Linked DNA regions of Homo sapiens: all the other regions are reported to be linked to region 1. Evidence: microRNA targets listed by miRTarBase, many of them from high-throughput screens and not tested one by one. Region 1 holds a microRNA gene; each other region holds the end of a gene's coding sequence.
What was found. Region 1 holds the annotated microRNA hsa-miR-4663 (AGCUGAGCUCCAUGGACGUGCAGU, at 2,790-2,813, shown strand). A microRNA usually pairs through its seed, bases 2 to 8, with sites in the 3' UTR of a target mRNA and lowers its output. Matches are read on the target gene's strand: a 7mer-m8 pairs with bases 2 to 8, a 7mer-A1 pairs with bases 2 to 7 and ends in A, and an 8mer does both.

Region 2: the mRNA of ABHD15 is a reported target of hsa-miR-4663. Seed matches in the 3' UTR shown: 7mer-A1 at 3,100-3,106, 7mer-A1 at 2,161-2,167 and 7mer-A1 at 1,649-1,655.
Region 3: miRTarBase lists PLA2G4D as a target of hsa-miR-4663. Seed matches in the 3' UTR shown: 7mer-m8 at 3,552-3,558.
Region 4: the mRNA of KY is a reported target of hsa-miR-4663. Seed matches in the 3' UTR shown: 7mer-A1 at 1,987-1,993 and 7mer-m8 at 189-195.
Region 5: the mRNA of HNRNPU is a reported target of hsa-miR-4663. Seed matches in the 3' UTR shown: 7mer-A1 at 1,033-1,039.

The regions. Positions count from the first base shown.
Region 1 is chr8:123,214,515-123,218,643 of GRCh38, reverse strand. MIR4663 (microRNA 4663) reads left to right here and starts at 2,781; the gene lies at 2,781-2,856.
Region 2 is chr17:29,559,270-29,563,398 of GRCh38, forward strand. ABHD15 (abhydrolase domain containing 15) reads right to left here. Exons shown (of 2, transcript NM_198147.3): 2 at 1,278-3,817. The coding sequence ends at 3,292. Among named protein-coding and RNA genes, the nearest start is that of ABHD15, 5.7 kb to the right of the region's middle.
Region 3 is chr15:42,065,097-42,069,225 of GRCh38, forward strand. PLA2G4D (phospholipase A2 group IVD) reads right to left here. Exons shown (of 20, transcript NM_178034.4): 20 at 1,913-3,845. The coding sequence ends at 3,619. Among named protein-coding and RNA genes, the nearest start is that of PLA2G4D, 27 kb to the right of the region's middle.
Region 4 is chr3:134,600,331-134,604,459 of GRCh38, forward strand. It overlaps KY (kyphoscoliosis peptidase), which reads right to left. Exons shown (of 11, transcript NM_178554.6): 11 at 1-4,129. The coding sequence ends at 3,249. It also overlaps a transcript of CEP63 not described here. Among named protein-coding and RNA genes, the nearest start is that of KY, 49 kb to the right of the region's middle. RefSeq lists a silencer at 3,737-4,031.
Region 5 is chr1:244,851,150-244,855,278 of GRCh38, reverse strand. HNRNPU (heterogeneous nuclear ribonucleoprotein U) reads left to right here. Exons shown (of 14, transcript NM_031844.3): 13 at 235-306; 14 at 776-4,129. The coding sequence ends at 829. SNORA100 (small nucleolar RNA, H/ACA box 100) reads left to right here and starts at 1,062; the gene lies at 1,062-1,192.

The DNA of each region.
Region 1 (4,129 bases):
GTGGCACGATTGCGGCTCACTGCTGCAACCTCTGCCTCCCAGGTTCAAGCAATTCTCCTGCCTCAGCCTCCCAAGTAGCTGGGATTACAGGCATGCACCACCACGCCCAGCTAATTTATGTATTTTTAGTAGAGATGGGGTTTCGCCATGTTGGCCAGTCTGGTCTCAAACTCCTGACCTCGTGATCCACCTGTCTCGGCTTCCCAAAGTGCTGGGATTACAGGCATGAGCCACCGCGTCCAGTTGAACAGTTCTTTTAGTGACCTCGATAGCATGACCAGCAGTTGCACATTAGTCTTAATGTGAAGCCAAAGACTGTATAATTAGTAGACATTTCAATTTTAGGAATTAAAAATTGTGAAGATCCTTCCACAGCACCTCATTGCTGTCCCTCTATGCATTCGGTCGTTAGCTATCAAGTATTGAGCTATGATGTGTCAAGCATTGTGTGGTTGCTGGGGAGACGCTGGTTATCGTGGAGTTTGTGATCTAGCTGTGGATTGCCCTCGGGATGGGACATAGACTCTAGCATGGCTTGCCAAGCCCTTCGTGGTACAGCTCTGGCTACCTAGAGCCCCATCCTTCACTGCTGCTCGCCTTTAAATGGACTGTGACCTTCACCTCAACCCATCCCCGCCCCCATCCAATGGCTAATTCACATTCATTTTTCAGGTCTGGTTTAGATGTAGCTTCCTGGAAGTCTTTCTGACCTGCCAGTGGTGGGAGGTTTCCCACTTCTGTGCTCCCTTACTGCTGGTTCAGTCCTATACTGACTCTTATTCCTGTGTTTTGTATTCCATGTTTGCCTGATGGTTTGCCACTAAATTTTTTAAAGTCAGGGACTGTGACTGTTTTGTATATATTTGTGTCCCCAAGGCAGAATAACCTGGCATCTCACTAAATATTTGTTGGAAGAATTACTGAATGAATTGGCCAGCATCTTAATTTTGCAAAAGGTTAATACCCTGCAGATGTGATACTGTGCTGAGGCAGTCCTAGCACTCTGCCTGTTTCTGTCTGTAGCTAAACCTCTTCCTTCTGTCCATGTGATCTCCCTAGAAATGCCCCATTTTTTTCCTCTAACCCCTCTCGGCTTCTGGTCTGTATCCTAGCCCACTTGCCAACTTGGCCCTTGCTTTGAGCGTTTCATCTTCTGGCTTTCCTCTCCAACTTGCTGTCTGCATCATCCTGAATGCCCAAGTGGTCTTCACAGATCCTACTCACACCTCACTTCCGCCCCGCCTCGCCTTCCTGGCAGCAGTGTGTTGACGCAAGTGAGAACCTGGCCTCTTGAACTCTGATGCCTCTGCTGTAATAAAGGGTGGGAAAGGACACCCAGGAATACTGGGCACCTCTGGGTTTCATCACACAAAGTCATCACAATCATTTCCAGCACAGATGGTGAAGGTAATTGAGCAATGATTACACTAAAGAAAAACCTTCAGGCCTGCCAATTCAGACATCACTACCCTTAACAGTGAGTGAGTCACTTAGAAGGTGAGCAAATGTGCACCACAGATGTGACTGCACTCCAGGTGCATGGGGTGGGACCTAAGGGAAATTTCTTGCCTCTTCCACTCTCAAAAGGCCTGTCTTCAACATTTGCTCCTCAAGGGGAATCTATGCTGGATGTCTGAGCGGGTAAGAGTCTTTTTTTTTTTTTTTTTTTTGAGGTGGAGTCTTGCTCTGTTGCCCAGGCTATAGTCCAATGGCACGATCTCGGCTCCCTACAACCTCCCCCTCCCAGGTTCAAGCGATTCTCGTGCCTCAGCCTCCCAAGTAGTTGTTGGGATTACAGGCACGCACCACCACACCCAGCTAATTTTTGTATTTGTGGTAGAGATGGGAGTTTTACCATGTTGGCCAGGCTGGCTCAAACTCCTGAACTCAGGTGATCTGCCTGCCCCAGCCTCCCAAGGCTCTGAGATTACAGGTATGAGCCACTGCGCCTGGCCATCTTTTGTCCTTTATATTCTCACACCCCTACCATCCTCACACTGGGTCAGAGGGATCTTGGAAAGATATTCTCACAGTCCTGGCCGGGCACAGTGGCTCACTCATGTCTGTAATCCCAGCACTTTGGGAGGCCGAGGTGGGTGGATCACGAGGTCAGGAGTTCAAGATCAACCTGGCCAAAATGGTGAAACCCCATCTCTACTAAAAATACAAAATTTTTTAAAAAAAATACAAAAATTAGCCGGGCATGGTGGCAGGCACCTGTAATCCCAGTTACTCGGGAGGCTGAGGCAGAGAATTGCTTGAACCTGGGAGGCGGAGATTGCAGTGAGCCGAGATCGCGCCACTGCACTCCAGCCTGGGGAACAGAGTGAGACTCTGTCTCAAAAAAACGAAGAACACATCATTCTCATAGTCCTTCATGAGGCCTGCGAGGCCCCACATGGCCTGGCCCTGACCCACTCCAGCCCAACTCGCTTTGCTTCCCTTGGTACTGTACCCACCCTGGTTTCCTCTCTTGTTCTTTGACTCCTCAAGCTTGCCCTTGCTCAAGCCTTTGCCCATCCAGTCACCTCCACTTTGAACATTCTCCCCTGCACTCCCCCAGCCCAGCCTTAAACGTCCCCTTCCTGTGGATCTCCACCCAAAGGTCACTCTCAGACAAGATGCTCCCGATCCCCAGACTGGCTCGGGTTCCCCTTCAAATGTCATCATATGCCCTGTGCTTTTTTTTTTTTAATGGCTTATTGGAATTGTAATTAATTTATTGTATAATTCCTCCTGGCCAGATCACAAGCTCTAGGGCGGTGTCTCTGGTTTGCCTTCTGTGGTGGAGCTGAGCTCCATGGACGTGCAGTGGCATCTGTCATTGCTGCCTTCCTGGAGCTCAGGCCCTTGCAGAGGCAGTCTGAGGCATGGCAAGCCACAAGCGCACAGCCTGTCCCCACCAAACCCCACTTCTGGTGCCAGAGGTGGCCCTGTACCCTGCACAGAACCATGTTTCAAAAAAATGTGCTTCCTTTTAGGAAAACCTTGGGCAAAAAATCTCTACAAAACAAATCTAAGGCCACCATTTATTAAAAGATGTTTTAAAGGGCAGCTTTATAGTGCTTTTGAACTTGAATCTAGGTAGTCTGTTTACACCCTGCTTTCCAGGGGATTAATCAAAACAACAAAACAATGAGCAAACAGAGAGGGATGTGCAGAAGAGCCCAGAACTCTGCCAGTGTGGCTGCACACGCAGTCAAGTCGGACTCGGTCATCCACACGCGCTCGCTTTCTCTGTGCCTGGCCCTGTGCTGTAGGGTCAGAAGCTGAAGAGAATGCCCCCCGAACCTGCAGAAGAACATTCCGAAGAGTGGCAGCTCCATTTCTGTTTTCCCAGTCAAAATGTGTCCATCAGGAGACTTTGCTAAAGAAGTTTGGAGAGGAAAGGCATTTGTCCTCCTTGTCCTTTTCTCCCTCCTTCGCACGGGGTGGCTTCATCACCTAGCGCTTTGGTGTTGTATCTGCCCAGCTTCTGAGCTAACCACCACCCTTGCCCCCCTCCTCTCTCTTTCACAGGGGTGAGTACCTAGCAATCATGTTTGTACTCAACTACCTTAACTGATGCGGGAGTCGGGGGGTGTACCTGACCCAAGCTGTACCTGGCTAATCAGATTCTCTCCCAGAGGTTCAGAAATGATTCTTCTCATGGGTCTGACCCTAGCAAGCTCAAAAGTAGGGGGGTGGCTGTGTTCTGCCAAAGTGACTGAGGAATAGACAGGGCAGGACTGCAGAGAAGCAAAATGAAGGAGATGCCCCAAAGGGGCAGAGGGACAGTTCTCTGCTTTGCTACTTTTTTTTTTTTCTTTTTTCTTTATTTGAGACAGAGTTTCACTCCTGTTGCCCAGGCTGGAGTGCAATGGTGCGATCTCGGCTCACCACAACCCCTGCCTCCTGGGATCAAGCAATTCTCCTGCCTCAGCCTCCTGAGTAGCATTCACCACCATGCCTGGCTAATTTTGTATTTTTAGTAGAGACGGAGTGGTCTCGAACTCCCGACCTCAGGTGATCCGCCCGCCTTGGCCTCCCAAAGTGCTGGGATTACAGGTGTGAGCCACCACCCCTGTCTGCTTTACTACTTAGGATTCCAGGCTCTTCCTGGTCTCTAGGGCCTGAGGCCTCCATGAGA
Region 2 (4,129 bases), not on the chromosome of region 1:
TGTTGGCTAGGCTGGTCCTGAACTCCTGGACTGAAATGATCTGCCTGCCTCGGCCTCCCAAAGTGCTGGGATTACTGCACTTTGCAGTGAGTCACTGCACCTGGCTCGTTTCCTTATTTGTATTCATTTTTTTATCTTACCATTTGAAGGTGTTGGTAAATAACGGACACCAAAAAGGAGGCAAGCAAGTAATGAGGCCTGAAGATTACTGAAGACCCACCACCTGGAAAGTCCAACTCAGTGGTTCTTAGGTGTTCGGGAGGGGCTCACTGAAGTCTCGACCTCCAGGGCTGAAGCAGTGCTACCGCCTCAGTCTCCCGAGTGGCTGGGACTACAGGGTGCACCACCATGCCTAGCTAATTTAATTTTTTGTAGAGATGGGGTTTTGCTATGTTGGCCAGACTAGTCTCGATCTCTTGGCCTCAAGTGATCCTCCCACCTCAGTCTCTCAAAGTGCTGGTATTGCAGGTGAGAGCCACTGTGCCCCGCCTATTGTTTGGTTTTGTTGTTTGTTTCTTGCTTCCTCAAACTCATAACTTGCCATTTTGTTCAAGGGCCACCCATTCACAGAACAGTGTGCCTGGGGCTCCTCCAGCTGGCTTCACACAATTAGCTATTTACCAAAGCAGAATTCACCTGTGTGATTCTTGAATCATTAGGCTAAAGGACAGGGCCATCCAAATCTTTCCTGCTTGAACAGAAATTACACTTTCTCAGCACAAAACAGGCATTTCAGCCCTAGTCTTCAAGTAGTAATGGGAAAATCAGAGAATGTTCTTGGGATATGCAGTGGGTGCATCTGGCACAAGGGCCACGGAAGAGAAATACTTTAGGGTTCGGGTCACTAGAGTTCAGGGTTCAAAGGAATTAATGGAACGTGAACTGGGGCTGATTCTGCCATTCTTCTGACTGTAACTACAAAGTTTATACATTTCTCTCCCTGGAAAACTTTCTTTCCTATCAAAAGGGAAAGGAAAACCAACCACTATTTCTCCAAAAGCTATTCTCTTGAAGAACCAGAATCTTGCATTATCTGGATAGTTTCTAGAGAAACTATGCAGATTTTCACCCTTAGGGACTCTTTAAGCCTTAGGGTTTAAAAACCACTAGGCTGCTTCCCATTTTGCAGGGCAACTGGGACTACGGGACCCTAATTAACTGAAATCCTCACTGTACCAGATGTGGAGGGCAGCTGGTGGTAGCGGATGGCCAGATGGCAGTAAATCTCCCTCACCAAGGCTTACACCAAGGCTGTTGTTCACCGGCAGTAGAGCAGCTTAATTTCAGTTCCTTTTTATTTATCCTGCTTAGAAACGGCAAAAGAACGTCAGATGAGGAATATGGAGGAGGAGAAACAAGAAGTGGGGAGAAGGGAGATAATTTTTCTTTTCTTTTTTTTTTTTGAAACACAGTCTTACTCTGTCGCCCAGGCTGGAGTGCAGTGGTGCGATCTCAGCTCACTGCAAGCTCCGCCTCCCGGGTTCACGCCATTCTCCTGCCTCAGCCTCCTGAGTAACTGGGATTACAGGCACCCGCTACCACGCCCGGCTAATTTTTTGTATTTTTAGTAGAGATGAGGTTTCACTGTGTTAGCCAGGATGGTCTCGATCTCCTGACCTCGTGATCCACCCACCTCGGCCTCCCAAAGTGCTGAGATTATAGGTGTGTGCCACCGCTCCCAGCCAGGAGGGAGATAATTTTTCACAACAAGATAATGTCCCTTAGATTATCGAGTGCTGTCTACATTTCAGTGCAGATTCTTGGAGTTATTTCAAAGTTTCTTCTGATTTGATCTAGAAGAACAAGATCTAGAATCTGGGGCAAGATTATCCAAACCTGAAATCAAGGCCTCAGGAATACCTTATACCAAGTCTTGGAATGTGGGTTTTCGTATAAGCAGCTCTCTTCTTTACAACAGCTTTGCTGTTTTTGAGGTCAGAACAGGAGCCCTCTTTCTCAATGACGATTAAAATAAAACTTCAGGGCAAAGTTTTTGAATCTTAGCAACACATGGAAACATATGTCCTGTTGCCAAAAAAATTTTAATTGCCTAATCCAAACCAGAATATTTAGATCAACCTGTATACTATATATTATCTCTGATATACTATATCTCTAGTCCTCAGCATTATTCTTCATAAAACCAAATACCCACTTATTTGCTGAGTGGCCAGATCTAAGAGGAAGCTTTTCTGCCTTTACAGGGATGGCCTTTTGAATAATTGAGCAGACGAAGCATTGGAATATGAAATATTTGTAAATCACTGGTCAGCTCTAGTCAACCTCTTGGTGCTTTTGTTTCCTCTGGTCCCAGATGTGTCTCCTGGCTCTGGAAAGGGAGAGGCCAGTAGTAGGATCAGAAAAGGGAGCAACCAACCAGAAAACACCTAAGTTATGAGGTTTGTGCTTTTCCTGACTTAGAGAAAGTCCATATCTCAGGAGATAAACAGTTCTGGCTGCAGCTCTCTGGAGTAATCCCCTGAAATGGTGCCAGAGGGAGCATGTAGGGTAGCCAAGATTCTGACTCCTTGAACCATGGTCTAGCAAAGCCCTCAGATCCTGCATGAGAGCGCTTCCTATTTGTAAAATACCCTTGGGATCTCTCCAGTGAGGCTTGGGGGCCAGATCAGCCCCATTCCTAGCTGAGACTTGCAGAGCTCCTCTGAGAGATTGGAACTTCGCATTCCTTGAGATGGACATTCACATTCTCTACCTGCTCAGCCCTCAGCGAGCCAGCCCCACTGCCTCTGCCGCCCTTCTCACACACACAAGCCTGCTGCCGCAGTTGCCAGAGCATTCGGTCAAAGCAGGGCGCCACAACCACAGAGCAAATGAGGGAAGTGGGGCCGAGACACAAACATCCTGTCCTCATGACATCAAATGGCTCCAGCTTGAGAATCGGGGTCACTGCCCAGTGACATACACAAACGTCTCATCCCTCTAGCCACTGCCAGTAAGAGGGCATTTTCTCCTGAGTCCATGGATTGAAAAAGTGCTATCCTTTGGCTTGTGATGTCAGTGACAGGTGACAGTGACTGGAACGCGCCGCTGCTGACCGGATGAGTAGGGATATGTTGAGCAGAGGCCAGGCAGGAGTTCTGCTGAGGATGAAGTGAGTGCAGGCTCGCAGGACGTTCCTTCTCTTTCAAGGCACCAATTTAAGAGAGAGGGACTGAATGAGGAGCACAGAGCTGGAGCTCCCTCTGTTCAGTCCGCCCCATCTTTCCAGGACTCCCCCTTGCCCAGCTCTGTTTTTCTTTGCAGGACTTGGGGGTTCTCAGGCCAGGTCTTTCACCTTGTGTATGATCGCTTCCAGTTAAAGATCTCCTCCAGGTTGGAAGAGGAAGAGACTTCCCGCCTCTGCAAGGCTCCCCCACGACGACGGCCCCCAAGGAAGGAAGCTCTGTGCCTGCTCAGCCCTTTAATCCTCTCCTCCGTTCGGAAGAACTCAGTCAAGGCCCGGAAGGACTCCAAGATGACCTCATGGCTCCAGGCTGGCAAGGGCTCCTGGCGCAGGAAGCCACAGTGGCCTCCGTGGCGACTGAGCAGGAGGAAGAAGTAGGGGTTGCTGTGGAAGAGTTCAGTTGTCAGAGTGTGGTCTGGGGGTCCACACACGGGGTCGTCAGCACTGCAGATACACAGCACAGGCACGGCTGCCTCATCGACATCCCGGAGCGGGTCGTTGCGGTCCCAGTAGGTATCCCAGCTGATGGGGAAGCTTTTGGTGTGGCAGAAGAGAGCCTCCTCAAACTCTCGAAGGGAACGGCTCCTGAACAGTCTGCTGGTGTCCACAGTGTCCTCCAGGGCTGTGGCATACCTGGCAGCGAGGTGTTTAGTGGGGAAGGTGGGAAAGAGAGGGAAGAATGAGAACATCAGGTGACAGCAGATGAGACAGACAGACAGCCCGCAGGCCAGATCTGTCCACAGAGGCTTTCTTTGGCCATTTAGGGCTTCGAAAACGTTTAATTTCATGGCCATCATTTAAAACCAGATAAGGCTGGTTGTGGTGGCTCACGCCTGTAATCCAAACACTCTGGGAGGCCAACGAGGTGGGTGGATCACTTAAGTCCAGGAGTTTGAGAACAGCCTGGGCAACAGGGCGAAAACCCATCTCTAAAAAAAAAAAAAA
Region 3 (4,129 bases), not on the chromosome of region 1:
CGGCCACAGCCTGTGGTGAGCAGAGGGCAGAGCGCCAGCCTTGTCCTGGGACTGGTGACAGACAGCCTGCTGTCTTCCTGTCTCTGAGCTGGCCCCAGGAAGGGCCCACAGGCTGCAGGAAGAGCACTGTGTGATTTACATAGATGCCTTTGTGTGGGGGCCTGACAGCTGCTGGAGTCACGGTCCTCACCCGGGTCAGGGTGGGGCTGAGAGGGCCTCCGGGTGTTTGGGTAGTCAGGGGCTGGGGTGACAGCAGCTAGTGGGGGGCGGGTATATGAGACAGATAAACATCCACACTCACATGCCAGGTGTGGCTTTGAGCCTCAGCCCAGCCCACTCTCCTTGGCTGTCTGGCTGGCTTTATTGAAAGTTCGCCAAATGGAAAGGGTCTTTTTTTTTTTCTACCATGCCGGCTCACTCTCCAGAGCATCCGTGCCGGCAGTTGGCCAAACCCTGAGGTTGGGAGCACAGTCCTCCAGACCACCACATCTTCTGGGACGCCTGACCTCTGCAGCAGAGGTCACCAAACTGTCCAGTCCGAGGGAACAGTCCCCACAAGACTGCCCCAACTTCAGCCACCAGCCGCAAGTTCAGAGTCCCCAGGGCCACCTTCACTTCAGACCAGCTGGCTGCAAATTTGGGGGTGCTTACAACCACCCTCAGCTTCAGTAATTTTCTAGGGTGACTCACAGAACTCAGGAAAGCACTAACCTTATGATTACAGTTTTATGATCATGAAAAGATACAAATTAAAACCAGCCAAAGGAAGAGAGGCTTAGGGCAGAATCTGGGAGGGGTCCAGTTGCAAGCTTCCAGGGAGGTGTCCTCTCTCTTTGGGGTTCTGGACAGCATTGCCTCCTCTGGGCCGCAATGTGTGAGGATACGCACAGGGTGTTGTCCACCAGGAAAGTCTACCTGAGACTTTGGTGCCCAGAGACTTTACTGAGGCTTGATCAGATGCTGCCTGTGTGACCGACCTTTAGTCTCCAAAGCCCCCCAGCAAACAAAGACACTCCTGTCAGACAGGACATTCCAGGACCCAGAGGTCACCTCCCACTAGCCACGGGCAGAGACTGGACCTCTCTTTGGTGAGGTTAATTCTAAACTACGAATAGGGCACGTTACAAAGTCAGTGCCCAAAGACACAGAGAGGTGTGGCTGTCAGAAGCTCCAGTCCTGGATTTGCCACCTTTGAGGTTAGCAAGTTACTTAATCCCTGTGGACGCCTACCAGCCAGAGGCCAGCAGGAACAGCCCAGTAGCCAAACAAATTTGAGTTAACTGGTACCCATTGCACTAAGAAGACTGTATACTAGGAGGCAGTGCAGTCTCAGTAAGTGTGTGTGTGTGTGTGTGTGTGTGTGTGTGTGGTGGGGGGGTGCTTATTGAAGGATTTGGGCGTTTGTAGGGTGACATTACGAAATGTTCAAGGAAGCAAAGTGTTGCTGTGGATTGGGTGCTGTCAGGGAGTGGGGCGAGTCTATAATTGAGGATCTTCACAATTTTTATCCAGGAGGTGGAAGAACGGGAGGGACGAAAAGCCTGGTAGAGAAACCGCAGTCTCTCACGTGAAACAGGAGAGGGCACTGTTTGGCCATTTTTATGGTTTCACAGTGCCCTCATTTTTTGTCCATGCTCAGGCATATTTATGGAGTGGCCTTGATTCTGTCCTGCTGCGTCACGGGGGCGCGGTGACCCTGCCTGACACAGGTGCTCTGTGAAGTTTGTGTGCATCAGGCGGACACCAGGGACCTGCAGACGAGTCACAGGATGCTTTGTTCTGTTCCTTTCCCAACCCTGAGTTTCATCACTGATAACAAGGAGACGGTAATTCTACCTAACACATTAGGCAAATGTGAGAATTAAGGGGAATAATGTAAAATGCCCAGCATAAAATAAAACACAACAGCTAGTCAATTCCCATATCACTGTTAAAAAAATAAGAGTCCATGATAAAGGGAAAAAGTGAAGAATCAAAATAAAGCCAAATGCAGAAGAGGCACAGGGAAGGAAGCTGAGAGAGGACATCAGATGAGGGCAGTCCCTGAGCCAAGGTCTGTCCCGAAGCTCTCACTACAACCCCCACCTGGGGCCAGGTGTGTGTGTGTGTGTATGTGTACACGCACCCTTGCATGAGGGAGGTAAGAAATGTGCTAGCAGCTGGCCGTGGTGGCTCACACCAGTAATCCCAGCACTTTGGGAGGCTGAGGCAGGAGGATTGCTTGAGTTCAGGAGTTCAAGACCAGCCTGGGCAACATGGTGAGACCTCATCTCTACAAAAAACCATTTTTTTAATTTAGCCAAGTATGGTGTTACATGCCTGTAGTCCCAGCTACTTGGGAGGCTGAAGTGGAAGGATCACTTGAGCCCAGGAAGTTGAGGATGCAGTGAGCCAGATTGCACCATTGAACTTGGCCTGGGTGACAGAGTGTGATGAGATTCTGTCTCAAAAAAAAAAAAAAAGAAAGAAAAAGAAAAAGAAATGTGCCAGCAATAAACAAAAAGGTTTATATACCATAATCAAATGGAAACTGCCCCAGGAATGCAAAGTTGGTTTAATATCCAAAAACCAATTAATGCAATAGAGTACATTAATAAAATACACGACAAAACCACATGATCATGCCCATAGACACAGAAAAATCACTTGACAAAACCTAACACCGTTTCATCATAAAACACTCAATAAACTAGAAATAAAAGAGAACTTTCTCAACCTGATAAGGATGTCCAAGAAAAACCCACAGCTAAAATCACACTAAATGGTGAGAGACTTATGCTTTCTTGTCAGAGTCAGGAACAAGACAAGATGTCTGCTCTTGAAACGTGTGTTCATCATTGTACTGCTCAGGGCAATTGGGAAAAATAAATAAAAGGCATTCAGATCAGACAGGAAGAAGTAAAACCATCTCTATTTGGAGATGGCATGATCTGTCTACAGAAAATTCTAAGAAATCCGCAAAAGTATTAGAGCCGGTAAACAACTTCAGCAAGATTGCGGAATACAAGATCAACATTTAAAAATCCATTGTATTTCTATAAAATAGCAATGAATAATCTAAATGAAATTAAGAAAGTAACTCCACTTATCAAAAAGAATAAAATATTTAGGAATAAATTTAAACAAGTACAAGACTTGGATACGGAAAGCAGGAGGACAAAGAGGAGAAGGACAAGGAGAGGAGGAGGTGGAGGAGCAGGAAGAAGATGAGGAGGCAATGTGTTCAGGATGTCTTGTGATTCCCGAGGCCTGAAGCCACCTGTCAGGTCAGGCATCCCCTGTCCTTCCTGTCCCTACTCCTGATCTGCTGCCTCCGGCTTGCACTTCAAATCTATCCTGCTCAGGCATGGAAGTAATTGTGGTGTGAAAGTCTGTCTGGTTGGACCAGCTGTTCTACACACTGGCCTGGCGAAGTTATTTTCAACTCATCTCAAGCCAGCCATGAACGTAAGAGAGAAGTCTGTGTGTGCAGTTCCCTCTGGGCAGTGAGACCAGCTACAGAGGCCACCCAGGCCTGGGAGAGCCCAGAACTCCAACCAGGAAGGCCTGTGGCTGAGCCCAGCTACAGATCAGGTTATGCCCGCAGGCCCTGGAGGGTCCTGCAGCCTCTGAGCAACCTCAGGTCTGTGCCCTTGGAGGCCTCGCCTCTAGAGTCCGGTGCTTCAGCGCGGTCCTCAGGGCCTGCAGGATGGCACCCTGGCTGGTCTGCACGTTGTAGTCACTGAGCCGCAGCAGGCGCTCGAAGTCTTCCTCCTTGTAGGTCATGTTGGACAGGGTGTAGGGGCAGGTGGCCCCGGTGAGATCCACTTGGCCACCCTGGAGCTCTGCGGGGCTGCGCTGGACACCTGCCCAGGGGTAGGAGGGGTGTCAGGAGCAGGACGCCGGGGCTTCTACAGCCTGGCAGCGGCGCACAGGGAGGGCTGCCCCCGCTGGAGGGGCCCCTGCTTTCCTCCCAGCTCTCTGTGTCCTTTGCCCAGGAATGTAAATGTGGGTGGCAGGGTGCTCTTTGGATGGGTACTATTTGGTGGTAGAAAATACAATTTCATATTTCATTGCCTTGTGGCGTGACACCCCTTAGGCTATTCAGGCAGCCCCACATGTCTCTACATCGCTTCGAGGCAAGGTGGAA
Region 4 (4,129 bases), not on the chromosome of region 1:
CTTGGCAACTTGTCCCTCCTGCTTAACAACAGGAAATAGTTCTTTATGTCTAGCCGAAATCCTTCATGCTTCAGTTAGTCTATTTATTTACTTTTAATCTTAGCAGGCAGTGAGGAGGCTGTCCTGGTAGGACAATGTAACATATGGGGAACTCACAATGATCATAATCAGATTGAAAATGGAGTCCAGCTGAGCTATGGCACTTCTGAAACAAGCTGGAAAGAAGTGTACTGAAGTTGTGGTTGTAGTGCCTCTGCCCACCACTCCTCCACCCTCGGTTCCCTTCTGCCCTGTGGCCTGGGGGCTGCCATCCTGAGAATTGCAAGCAGATACTTTCTGAGTTTGATCGGTTCCAATCCTTCAATGGTATAGTAATGAGTGTAGTCACAGCTGTTCCATCCAGTCCTATGTCAAGTGCTTCTGTTTCAAGAAGTTATTTCCAGGCAAAACAGTCCCATCACATCCCTTGTCTTTTCAACACACCAGGTTGTCCCCCAGGATGCCCTCACAGCTTGTGCGTGACAAAGATGTCCTCCGTGTACACATAAGGTAGCGCTGAGAAGCCACGAGAAAGCACCTAGTGATTTTAACATAAACATTTCCACAGCATTTTCAAGTTCTGCGAAAAAGCCCGGTGATAGATCAGCCTCGCGGTGTGCAGCGCCGGCAGCTCCGCACTTCGGACACCTGGGGGCGCCCGTGCCATTCCGCCGGCGACTGGGACTCGTCGCCCGGGAAACAAAGATGGGGATTTAAAGAAAAGCCTTCAAAATGCAACTCCGAATGTCTACCCTGAGCAGCATGCGTGTAAAAATTCATGAAGATTAGATTTCATTTCATGTATTTTTACTTCAGTGGAAAGAAATGCAGGTGATTTTCTGACTGCGCCTACAGCTGTCTTTACAAAGGGGGTGCCTAGTTAAACGAGAGGGAGGGGCTTGCTGATGCCCTGCGGTGCTTTGAGGGGCGGGGCCTCCCTCTCTGGTGCTGGGGACAGCTCCTATTTTGCTGGGTGGCATTCTCTGCAATGCTCCAGGATGTATTGATTAATTATATTGCATATCGAAAAGGTATGGGGGTCTCCAGCAGGACTAAGCGAGGCAGCCAGCGCGGGGTCCAGTGAGTGACATGCGTCATCGAAGGCACTTATTGTTTTGATGAAACAAACACATTTCTTTAAGCCCATAAAATCAGAAGTGTGCAAGACGGCTGTTTTCAGGGTGTAAAACTCCCTTTGTTTCCCTGTGGTGGTGCATAGCTGTTATGCCTCCGGGGCCTTTGTGCATTTTTCAGGTGTGAGTGACACGAGGCTGGCTGGGTGGCCTCGGTGGCAGAGACTGCGGAGGGCGCAGGACCTGCCCAGGACAGTTCAGCCCCCCAGGGGAGACACCCCTTTTGCTCGAGGCCGCCGGCCTGTTGGATGATGGGCACCCTTGTGAGCTGGTTCTGGGCTAGGCCACCGTGCTGGGTGGCAGTGGGGACTTTTAGGGGAGGGATCCCGGGGGATAATGAACAGAAGTGTCTGGAGCCTGGATCTTCAGTCAGGCCTGGGCAGGGAAGGCTGCTGCTGCCTGGCAGTTTCCTCACCCTGTACTCTGGATGGCAGGGGCCGGGCCCCCTTGGTTCACCTCTGTAGCCCAAGCATCTGGTACTTCTGTGAGCATTTGTTGGATACAGGGATGTGAGGGTGAGTGCCACGGAGGAAGCTATGAGGGTCCCAGCTGGCCCTGGCTGTGGTTGAGCCTGGAGGCCTGTGGAGGGGCTGTGGGGAGAGGTGCCAGGCAGTGCTGGCTCTCAGGGGTTGGGGGGCACTGAGACAGCCAGGGGCCACGGAGCTGGAGAAGCCGGGAGTTCAGCAGGGAGCATGTCTGTGTGCCAGGATGGTTCTGCAGTGGCCATGTGGGGCCTCTCTCGCCTTTCCCTCTTATCTGCCCTCGCTGAAGTCAGCCTTTCCTCCGTTGCCATGGCAACGGCAGCCTGAGGCGCTGCTGAGGGCCAGCTGGGCAGCTGAGGCCTCTCAGTCTGTGCCTGAGCAAGCAAGGAGCCCTGAGCTGTCCCCATGCAAGGTGAGACTGGAGGGGGCTGTCTTCTCAGAGAAGGGAGGAAAGGAGACGGGATAGGATGTTTTCTCCGAGACAGGCACAAAAGCTGCTCTCGTGCAGCTGGAATTCTTCCCAGCCCTGGCTTTGCTGGTAGAGACACTGGGGGCAGGCAGAGCCCTGTTAAAGTGTGAGTCTCCTCGGCATTGCCGCACTGCACTACTCACCTGATCTGCGCCCAGGTCCTTATTCAGGGCTATCCACAAGACTCCCCAAGGGCCTGGCCAGCCTCTGGAGGCTCTCTGTGGAGGTGGGGCAGGGGCCTGAGGCCCAGGCTCTGTGAGGGCCTGGAGGGCACTCCAGGCCTTAGACTGAACTACCTGCCCTGTGTACTCCTCTCAGAGCAGAGCTGGAGGTCTTACACCCTCAGACCAAGGCTGCAGCTCTGCCGACAGTGTCCCTCCCACCTGCACAGCCACAGCGGGCATGGGCTGCTCTTTGCTTTGCAGTCTCCTCACAACTTTCTGGTTGTCACATTCCTGACTATACTTAGGGATGTTGGAGACGATCAGCTTCCAGCCAGTTGTGGGTCAGCTGGCTTCCTCACCACACCCTTTTTCTTGGGCTCTTGAAGAACAAGAAGTAGCTAATGAAGAGGCAGCAGGATGCAGAAGATGATCAGGTCTGGGAGGAGAAGATAGTCCAAGATTCCCTGGGGGCTCGGAGCTGTCGAGAGGCACGGTGATATTGCTTGAAAGGGGCTCTGTGATTCAAGGACAACCCAGCCTTGCAAATCATGTCCCCTTGGGCATGGAAGAGAATTCTCTAAGCATCATGTGAAAAGCTGTCAACCTGGGCAATATCCCTGCTTTCCCTCATCAACCCTACAGCAACAACAACAGCAGCAGCACTAATACGAGAAGGGGCATCTGGATGCAGGTGTACAGTTTACAATACCTTAGATTTACATAGCACCTTTTCCTTCTAAAGAGCCACTGCCTCTGCCCCCTCAGTCACAGCCACACCTGAGTGAAGCCTTCAGAACACAAAGATCACAGCTCCTGTGGCAGAGGTGGGACACTGAGGCAGAGGCCTAGAAGGGATTTCATGCAGACTCAGTGGTGTCCAGGGCTCCCTGCACTTCCTTCGAGCCCTCCCTGGGGAGGTCTGGCCTTGGCCCTTTGGGAGGGTAAGACCGGGGCACAGCCCTCACTGGGCATTCACTTTGTATTTCAGGATGTAGGAGTAGAAATTGTGGTTGGCATTCTCCAGCACCATGACATAGACTTCCTGGCAGCCAGCTGTGCTGCAGCTTCCCTCCCAGTAGCCCTCGTGGTTCAGGGTCAGGGGCCATGTGTCCTGCCCCTTCACCAGGACTTTGGCAATACCATGCAGCTTCAATTTGAATGGGACATTCCGGTTGGCAGGAAGCACACCTGACAGAGGTTCCAGCAGCTCATTGTCCTGTCCCCAGTTGCCAAAGCTCTCAGGGAACATGGGCCAGTTCACCTTGGTGTTGGCACAGCATACAAGGTAATTAAAGACGAAGATGTAGTTTCCTGGTTCCTGCCTCTTCTTGACAAAGATCTTGAGGGCAAACTTGCCTGCATGGGGCAGCTGGACTTTCAGCTCGGTCTGCTTCTCCCGGTGCAGCTGGAAGATGTAGCGCCGCTGTGTCTCCTCAGTGATGGGGCCATCATCCCCGTGGAGGGAAGCCAGGACATTAATGCCCTCCTCCACGCTGAAGCTGATGGAGCAGCGCCCGTCGCTGGTGTGGATGATAGGGTCAGGGTGGGAGGGCTTCATGATGCCCATCTGCTCCGAGAACCAGCTGGGGCCCACGGGCTGGTGAAGCTCAGCAGGCAGCTGGACACCCATGTCCACATAATTGCACTTGAGCGTGTACTCCAGCACTGAGCTGTAGATGTCGGAGTTGCCCTTGGCAAAGATCTGCAGCTTGTGAGTGCCCATGGTTGGAGGGTACACCTCCAACTTCATCCCATTCTTCCTTAGGCTCAGCAGCCCATGCTCTTGCTTGCCATTGAGCATGAACATGAACAGCGTCGGGGCGCAGCTCTCAATGGTGACCG
Region 5 (4,129 bases), not on the chromosome of region 1:
GAGTCTACTTACTTTTGAGTTTTTTCAGGTGTACTAAACAAGTCAGATGCATTTCTCATAATGAATAAAAAATTAAAACATAAGAAACCAGCAGAGGGTATCCAGAATTTGTGTATTGCTTGCTACCTAAGATTAGGGGCTAGCAACCTGTCCATTTCTGCTCCTCTCTCTCACCCCCACAAACCTAACAAGCAATTGGGCTCAGAGCTCTTAGAGAGTATTTCCTTTTTGTAGAACTTCAGAGGACGAGGAAACAATCGTGGCTACAAAAATCAATCTCAGGGCTACAACCAGTGGCAGCAGGGTGTAAGTAATTTCTTATGTGCTTTATGTACATTAATTGTATTTTGAGTTCCTAAGATTTATCAGTCTTGAAAAAGATCTTGTTCAGGGATTGAAGTGTTTATAAGTGTTAATAGGGTAAAGTGTGAATCGTCTTGCAGTAGTAGCCATAATCTACCTTTTGAAGGCAAAATAGGTTGAAGATTGCTATAAGTTAAATTTTTTTAATAAAGTAATATTATTTAATATATACAGTTCTTTTACTGCTAGCTTTAATTGTGTAAACTAACAAAGTCATGATGTTTCGTTTTGTAATGTGTATTGATAATTATGGGATATTAAAACTAAATCTGGTTTGGTAGAAATCAGAGGTATGACAGGTATAAATTTGTTTCCAGCAAATTACTCTGAATTAGATTCATTGTCATTTCCTAAAAACAGTTTGAGTGGCTTATTGATGTTTTTTCTTTAAAAACAAAATTTTCTCTTACAGCAATTCTGGGGTCAGAAGCCATGGAGTCAGCATTATCACCAAGGATATTATTGAATACCCAAATAAAACGAACTGATACATATTTCTCCAAAACCTTCACAAGAAGTCGACTGTTTTCTTTAGTAGGCTAACTTTTTAAACATTCCACAAGAGGAAGTGCCTGCGGGTTCCTTTTTTAGAAGCTTTGTGGGTTGATTTTTTTTCTTTTCTTTTTTGTACATTTTTAATTGCAGTTTAAAAGTGAATCGTAAGAGAACCTCAGCATTGTGCACGATAAGAGAATGTGTCAGTATTTCAGGGTTCTACATTTTATCTGTAAAATGTGACTTTTTTTTTTTTTTATCACAACAGAAGTAAAATGTTGCTTTGTACCTGGTGTCTTTTATTAAGAATTTACTCCCCCCATTTCTCACAGAGAATAACAGTCGGGAGTCATTGTCACAATATAATAGAAATGTTAGCAACCAGATTCATGTAAGGACTAAGTGGTCCTCATGAATTGCATTAAGACTCTGTACTGCTCATATTACACTCCATCCTCTCTGTAGTTTGCTGGGTAGTGGAGGGGGTAAGCTAAATCATAGTTTCTGACAATAACTGGGAAGGTTTTTTCTTAAAATAACAATGGAATTGGTATAATTGGGATTGAAAACTAAAACTTGGAACTAAGATAGAGAAGATGGAGTGTATGTAGAAGGGCTGTTAAAAATGTAAAACTTGGTTGCATTATTTGTGGAGGCTCAAACTTGTGAAGGTTAATACCATAATTTTTCCATTTGTTCTGCATTTTGATTCTGAAAAGAAAGCTGGCTTTGCCCATTTCTTATTAAAAAAACTTGTTGTAAATCCAGTTGTCTAATGGGATCTATATGAAGTTAGCCATGTCTGTATGCCCTTCTCCCACAAAATACTGTATAACTAGTGTGCTTGTAGTAGTTAACTCCACCATCTTTGTAAGCTAATGAAATTGTGAGTCACCCATTTATATCTTAATTTTTAATCATGTCAGTTCTTGAATGGGTATCTCCTTAGCCTGCTGATTTCTTTTTCTTTCTAAAGAAAGTGGGTGGAGAAATTAATTTAGACGTTTGTTTGCAATAAAAAGAATTCATTTTACTCTTGTTTTGGGATTCTCGCCATCAAGGTTCAAAATCCCTTTATATAACTCCCAAGAGGAGAAATTTATTAAGTGTGTGCTTTCTGGACAGCTTATTCTTTACTCTGCATAGAACATTTAGGTTTTAAAAACTTAAATGTATACTGACAATTGATACATAATTATGAAGTAAAGTTGAATTCTTCCCTTCCCCTCCCCCCCAGACAACTTTTAACATATTTAATGAGGGGAAAAGGTACTGGCTGGGAGAAGTTAACACTGAGTTTATCATCTTTACAGAATGCTAATGCTGTCCTCAACTGATTATTTTATATACATATATATGATACATGAAACTCTGGGATCAGATGCTTTTAGAAGCCATCATGCAAGCCAGTCATTGATGTCACTGCTACACAACACTGCTAACTTGACTGTAGCTATGTAATAACATTAGATCCCCTAATTGTAATTATATTGGGTTTGCACAGAACACTTTAATCTTCCCCTCACCAATGTGAAGTGAGGAATCAGGAGTCAAACTGTAGAACTAAAATTTGACTTCAGTCTAGCGTTTCCTTGGTGTTTTTAGGTTGCTTTGGTAAGTTTAGGTTTGCTATATTTCTGATTGCTTAGAATTTTGTTTTAGCCCTTTAAAATCAGATCATAAATATGAATTCATACTTCTAAGGAATTTTCTTGCTATAAGCTGGAGTTTAGGTGATGTATAGGTTCAGTTGAGACATTTTTGGAACAGGCAAATCCTTAGTTAACATAAGATATTTAACAGTTGAAGATAGTGTCATGGATTTTTATCTTTTTTAGCAAGTAATGCTAAGAACCACTGGCCTGAGCTACTACTCTTCAGTATACATTATTAGGATTGCATAGACTTACTAGAGGAACAGTTTCAGGTTTTGATGCTAATCAGTGTTGTGTCCTAAAGTTGTCCTTTGTGCCTTTAAAAAGTTTTGGATATATCTTCTAGTTTAAAATTGCTTATTAAGGAATTCATTTTATAATTGCAGTGGGAAAGTAATGGTCAAGTAACACTAGGTAGACTATCATGCCTGTTTAGCCCAGAGAATTTGGGGGGAGAGAGAATAGATAAAAATGGCACCCAGAAAAATGTTAAAATCTTTAGTCAAGACTAGAATTAATACAATTGTCTACACTTGTATGGCAGAAATAACCTTATAAAGTGTTTAAGGAATTCAGAGAAGGGAATGTACCAAATAAGCAACAGGGAGAAAATTAGGTAAGAAGTAAGATACGAACGAGAAACCTGATTTATTGCTCATCCTTCCCTTGCCTCCCTAATGGCAAGCAAAACTCTGAACATCTGAAAAGGATGTAGTTCTGGACAAATCCTGACTACCCAGAGGAAACTCACTGTGAGATTGCTGTTGATTTGAAGGGTGCTTTCACTAAGGTTATATTTTAAAGTAGAATAACACATGCTGAGTGTAAACTGGCTTTGGATTGGTCAGCTGCAGTAGTACAAAAACAGCATAGAATTTGAGAAAACTAAAACTGCTATGAGATAGCTATGAGAAAACTAAAACTGCTATGAGATAGAAATGATGTAAAATTATGTGGAAAGTTTTCCCTCATATACTCACATACAGCCTTTGAAGGGCTCTGGCTCTGACCGGTTGATGGCCTTGAGCGAGATGAAATCATGAAATTGAGTCAAATCAATTTGACATTGAAATGACAAGAGGAAACTCTTAAATACATAAAAACAAGCTCTCATTTGCCTAGGATAGATACTGTCTTAAAAATAAAGACTGAACCTAGATGTTCTGAGCACTAGCAACAAGGTATTTTAACAAGTTTAAAGGAATTCTCTGAAAAAGTTATAAAATTATTCTAGGAAACATAACCATAATAGTGTTTTAAGGGACTTTCACCTGGGGATTTTATATTCATGAACAGAGTGTATTCTGTATTTAAAATGTCTCATTTGTGGGAATTGGATGACATGTTTTTTGATAAATTTATTCACAATATAAATTGACTTTTTATTCTAGGACCATGTGAATAATGGGTTCCATTGCACAAATACAAATATTTTAATAGCTTCTTAGGCAGTGGTGTAGACATCTTGGATATAAATAATTGTAGATCTTGTATATTTGATTTTTAAAAAACTAGAATAAACAGAGAGGCATAAACATATCTTAGAGTCCAAGTGGTAGTGTTTAGCATTGGATATAATAAATGGATGTTTTACAAAGTGTTTCCATAATTCTCTT